2 separate regions of the Homo sapiens genome follow, and region 2 is linked to region 1. The links come from fine-mapping of genetic effects on gene expression. Tissue or cell type: tibial artery. Region 1 holds a variant in brackets; the other region holds the start of a gene. All regions are shown on one strand. Distances are between the middles of the regions.

The links. PIP is the estimated chance that this variant, and not a neighbour inherited with it, causes the effect.
Region 2: ZNF268 starts here. The variant in region 1 is fine-mapped to the expression of ZNF268 in tibial artery (GTEx, PIP above 0.99).

What each region holds. Positions count from the first base shown.
Region 1 is chr12:133,207,554-133,210,474 of GRCh38, reverse strand. ZNF268 (zinc finger protein 268) reads right to left here. Exons shown (of 6, transcript NM_003415.3): 6 at 1-2,921. Among named protein-coding and RNA genes, the nearest start is that of ANHX, 27 kb to the left of the region's middle. The variant C/G (reference allele first, on the strand shown) is at 1,586.
Region 2 is chr12:133,179,742-133,182,662 of GRCh38, reverse strand. It overlaps ZNF268 (zinc finger protein 268), which reads right to left and starts at 1,168. Exons shown (of 6, transcript NM_003415.3): 1 at 977-1,168; 2 at 633-717. The coding sequence starts at 665. RefSeq lists enhancers at 781-980, 1,021-1,330, 926-1,450.

The DNA of each region.
Region 1 (2,921 bases):
CCCTAGTGGGGCAAATCCACAGTGAGGTTCTGAGCTTCCTTCTCCTCAGGACCAACCTGGGGACCCCTGGGAGGTAGATCACAGTGATGACCAGAGTATCCTCCTCAGGACTGACCCGTGGTGGGGGATGCAACCACAGTGAGGACTAAAGCTTCCTTTTCCTCACAACCTGGGGACCCCCTAGGGGGATACATCACAGTGAGATCCAGAGCTTCCATATCTGAAGACTCCTGTAGGGTACACCCACAGTGACGACCAGTGCACTTTCCGGACCAATCTGGGGCGATGTCATCTCACCTTTGGGATACATGGAGGCCACAGGAGGAAAAGATGAGGAAAAGTGAGGCCTGCACCCTGAGTGCTGAGGAGGGAGCTTTGCTGTTTCACTTTGCCCTGTAATATCTGAACAAGATTTATTTTAGGAAATCGTACCTCTATTGAGGTTTCCACTAGTCATCTTTATAGCAAGCCCAACTACTTTTTATACATATGGGTTTGTTTCTGGGGAGAAATCCCAGTACAAAAAAAGGGAGAAACACTGCGACAAAACACTGCAACAGTCCAGGTCAAAGTTGGGGATGAACAGCACCTGTGGGATCACCCTGGATCCCAAGAGGGAAGGGCAAATGTGCACCCTATGTGCTTGCTTTTATTAATTTTTTTTGAAGGAGTCTCACTCTGCTGCCCGGGCTGGAGTGCAATGGCACAATCTCAGCTCACTGCAACCTCCGCCTCTCCAGTTCAAGCAATTCTCCTGAGTAGCTTGGATTATAGATGCATGCCACCACAGCTGGCCAATTTTTGTATTTTTAGTAGAGACGGGGTTTCACCAGGCTGGTCTCGAACTCCTGACCTCAAGTCATCCACCTGCCTCAGCCTCACAAAATGCTGAGATTACAGGCATGAGCCACCATGCCCAGCCTTTTTATTAATGTTTTAATGGCCTGTGTTTCTAACAAGTAGTTGAAACAATGTTGAAAATTAAAGAGTAGACATGTTAAAACTTGCAACTTCATTTAAATTTAAATATATCATTTATACCAAAATCAGAATTTATTTAAGATTTATGGCTGGGTGCTTGGCTCACACCTGTAATCCTAGCACTTTGGGAGGCCAAGGCAGGTGGACTGCTTGAGCCCAGGAGTTTGAAACCAGACTGGAAAACATGGTAAAACCCCATCTCTACAAGAAATAAATAACTCTACCTGGCCCTTTAGCAAAGAATTAAGAAAAATCAATACAGACCAGTGGCTCACACCTGTAATCCCAGCACTTTGGGAGGCTGAGGGTGGATCACGAGGTCAGGAGTTCAAGACCAGCCTGGCCAACATGGTGAAACCCCATCTCTACTAAAAACACAAAAATTAGCTGGGCGTGGTGGCGTGTGCCTGTAATTCCAGCTACTAGGGAGGCTGAGGCAGGAGAATTGCTTGAACCCAGGAGGCAGAGGTTGCAGTGAGCCAAGAACACACCACTGCACTCCAGCCTGGCAATACAGCGAGACTCCATCTCAAAAAAAAAAAAAAAAATGCAAATACTATGCCATATAAGGAGCTTGAGCATCCACAGGGAGTATCTGTGGTTG[C/G]GGGGGGGTCCTCCATGAATACTGACAACTGCATACTTGCTACTCTACTGGCAGTTCCAAACATTTGTTTGTGGTTTATTTTGGGTTTCCTAATTACACGATCACATCTCCAATTCATGGCAGTTGTTTCTGCACCCATCCCTAATTCCTCACATTCCTTGTTTTCACACCTTGGCTAGATGTTACTCATTTCATAAAAGTGATGCGCATTCTTGTAATTTTGCTTTGTTTTTTACAGACAGGGTCTCACTTTGTTGCCCAGGATGGAGTGCAGGGGCATGATCATAGCTCACTGTAGCCTTGAACTACTGGACTCAAGCTAACCTCCTGCCTCAGCCTCCTCAGTAGGTGGGACTACCGGCACTTGCCACTACACCTGGCTGATCTTTTTTTTGAGATGGAGGCTTGTTCTGTCGCCCAGCCTGGAGTGCAGTGGTGCAATCTTGGCTCACTGCAACTGCCACCTCCTAGGTTCAAGCAATTCTTCTGCCTCAGCCTCCCGAGTAGATGGGATTACAGGCACGTGCCACCACACCTGGCTGACTTTTGTATTTTTAGTAGAGACGGGGTTTCACCATGTTAGCCACACTGGTCTTGAAATCCTGACCTCAAGTGATCTGCCCACCTCGGCCTCCCAAAGTGCTGGGATTACAGGCATGAGCCACGGCGCCTGACCACACCTGGCTAATCTTTTTAAAAAGTTTTTGTACAGACAGGGTCTCCCTATATTGGTCAGGCTTGTCTCGAACTCCTGGGTTCCAGCAATCCTCCAGCCTCAGCCTTCCCAAGTGCTGGTATTACATGGATGAGCCACTGCACCTGGCTAATTTTACTTTAAAGGAATCTTTCTACTATTTTATCATTAAGTATGACATTTGTGTTTTCAGAACATATATTCCCTACCAAGTTACAGGAGTTAATTTTAATTCCCAACTTAATAGTATTTTAGTGTCATCTATGGGTGTTAAATTCCATCAAGTGATTTATCAGCATATACTGAGATAATCCTTATGAGTTTTATCTGGTAGTTAATTAAAATATTTTCTAATATTAAATCTTCCAAACATACTCTTCTGTTTTTTGAGACAGGGTCTAGTTCTGTCACCCAGGGTGGAGTACAGTGGTACGATCTCAGCTCACTGCAACTTCCGCCTCCTAGATTCAAGTGATTCTCCCGTCCCAGCCTCCCAAGTAGCTGGGATTATAGGTGTCAGTTACCATGCCCTGCTATTTTTTTGTATTTTTAGTAGAGAGGGGTTTCACCATGTTGGCCAGGCTGGTCTCAAACTCCTGACCTCAGGTGATCCACCATCTCAGCCTCCTGAAGTGCTGGGAT
Region 2 (2,921 bases), 28 kb after region 1:
ATCTTTCAAACCTAAGGTTAAGAATCTCTTAATCATTGAAGCATTTGGGAGTAAGGGGTTAGGGGGTGTCCTTACTTCCAAAACTGACCCATTCCTGCATGTCTCCGTGTATTTCCACAGCCTGCTCCCAGAGCACTCATTAACTTGTCATTGTCTTTCTTATCCACCATTCCTAGACCACTGTTCTTCAAGACAGGGATGATAAGCAACCCATCTTTGCATTTTTAGCACCTGCCCCAGGGTCCAGCAAACAAAATACAATAAAAAAAAATGTTGAACAAGTGAATAAAAAAGTTTGTAATTTCCAAAATAAGGTTTAAAGATCCCAGATACAGAAGGCCCTCAGTAAATAAAGGCTGAAAAAACTGAAAGATGTGTGAGTATCCCTTGTTTAACTCCAAAGTTCAGCGTACAAAGTTGTTAGAAAAGAGATTGATGAAAGGAGGAAAAAAGGAAGTCGGATGACAAGAAGCATTTCTGGAAAGTCTAACATGCTATAAATGACGATCCAGTTGCCTAAAAGAGCGGTGGGGTGAGAAAGCTCCTGGCAAATTCAGACTGGAGTAGATGGAGTGCGCACACGTTGGCATTCAGGGAGAGCTTTTCAAGAATGAAAGAAAACCCCTACTCACCCAAATAGAAGCTGTCCGGACCCTGGTGGCCATCCCTACGGTCAGTTTTGTGTGCCTCGCTGGAAGTGACAGGACGCGAGGGATGCTAGAAGAGAGAGCACAGTGAAGAAAGAGGTCACCCAGCAGTCCCCAAACCCAGAGGGGGAGGGTCCGAGGCACCAGGGCTGCCTGCCATTCTCGGAGCTGAGGCTCCTTCCCTCCCACAGCACGGGATTCACCATCTCCACACCCTCACCAACACACAGGTTAGGGTCAGGCAACCGCCCCGGGTCAGCAGCAGGAGAGAGCTAAGGCAGATTAGTTCTGTCCCGTCCCGCCGCCTTGAAACCGGAGGAATTCCGCACCTCCGGCTCCTCCAAACCCTGAAGGGGCAGCAGAATAGAGTCCAGGGTACTGCCTCCACCTCCAGATCTGCAGCCAGAAGGGTTCGCAACCACTCCAGACTCGGCTGGCCCGTTGACCACGACGGGCGATGAACGCTATCTGAGGAACAAGGATCTCGCCATCGGCGCGGAACAATGGCGGCCGCTACGTATGTCGCACAGGAATTGCGTCATGGAGAGGCAAAGGCAAAAAAACTACAACTCCCAGAGGCCTCTGCGAGGAGTTACTCCCGCGCCGGAGGGCTCCGGCCAAGGGCCACCGGGAGGGGGCGTGCTAAGATGACCCGGAAGCTCAGGCCTTCCTGGCCAGGTCCCTGAGCTCCCGCGCTTGCAGGTTTTAAATTTTAAAGAGAATTAAAATACTTGACACCAATGGCTCAACGGTTGGAGGGATGTAAATTAGGTTACAAGTGTTCTAGTCCCTGCTTTACTGAAATGGTAAAAGTCTTATTTTGCTTTACACTTTAATAACAGATTCGTAAAATTCCCATTACATGTTAACATAAATAATATTTTAATGAAAATTACATATATTTTACAAAAGAAAAAATTTAGTAAGGAGTGGCTTCGCTTTTTAAGTCTTTTCTGACTTACTAGAAAGCTGGATTCTCATATCTGCTTCTATGTTTAATCTGTTGCGTATGTTGTTTTTGTTAAAGTATATAAAGATACAAGTCGAACAAGGGATAGTTTTGTTAGTGTACAATCTGAAACCACGTAGATGAACTTTTTCTACTCTATTACATAAAATCCGTTGGTCTACACTGCACTTTGAATGGATTCTTTTATCACGCATGATTTCGTAACATCATGTATTGGCCAGTTGGAAAATATTGGTTTACTTTAATGGCAAAAGCCGCAATTACTTACTTTTGCACCAACGGAAAATATCCACTAATCATTATTGATCTTAAGTATTGGGAAGAGGTGACATTCACAGAGGCAGATACAAGTTTTCTAGAATTCTTTTGTTTTTGGCTTTTAAAAACTTTTATAAATTTATGAGGTACAAGTGTAATTTTGTTACATGCATCAGTTGTGTAGTGGTGATGTCAAGGCTTTTAAGGTATCCACGCCCTATAGTACGTTATATGCATTGTACCAGTCAGGTAATTTATGATTATCCCTGAAACCCCCCCACACCTTTTGAGTCTTCATTGTCTATCATCCCACACTCTACATCCATGTGTACATATCCTTTAGCTCATACTTAAAGTGAAAACATGTGTTTTTCTTTCTGTGCCTGAGTTGTTTCACTGAAGATAGTGGCCACTAGTTCCATCCATGATGCTGCAAAAGACAATTTCATTCTTTCTTATGGCTGAATAGTATTCCATTGTGTATATATAACACATTTTCTTTATTCATCCATTCATGGACATTTAGGTTAATTCCATACCTGTGATATTGTGAATAGTGCTGTGATAAACATATGAGTGCAGGTATTTTTTTTATATATATAATGATTTCCTTTGGGTAGATACTCAGTAACAGGATTGCTTTATCAAATGGTAATTCTATTTTTAGTTCTTTGAGAATTCTCCACACTGTTTTCCATAGGTTATACTAATTTCACTTTCTCACCAACAGTGTATAGGAGTTTCCTTTTCTCCACATCCTCACCAACATCTTCTTTGTCTTTTTATTTTTATTATTTTATTTTATTTTTTGAGACGGAGTTTTGCTCTTGTTACCCAGGCTAGAGTGCAGTGGCCCGATCTCGGCTCACCGCAACCTCCGCCCAGGTTCAAGCAATTCTCCTGCCTCAGCCTCCTGAGTAGCTGGGATTACAGGCATGCACCACCACACCCGGCTAATTTTGTATTTTTAGTGGAGACAGGTTTCTCCATGTTGGTCAGGCTGGTCGCAAACTCCCGACCTTAGGTGATCCGGTCACCTCAGTTTA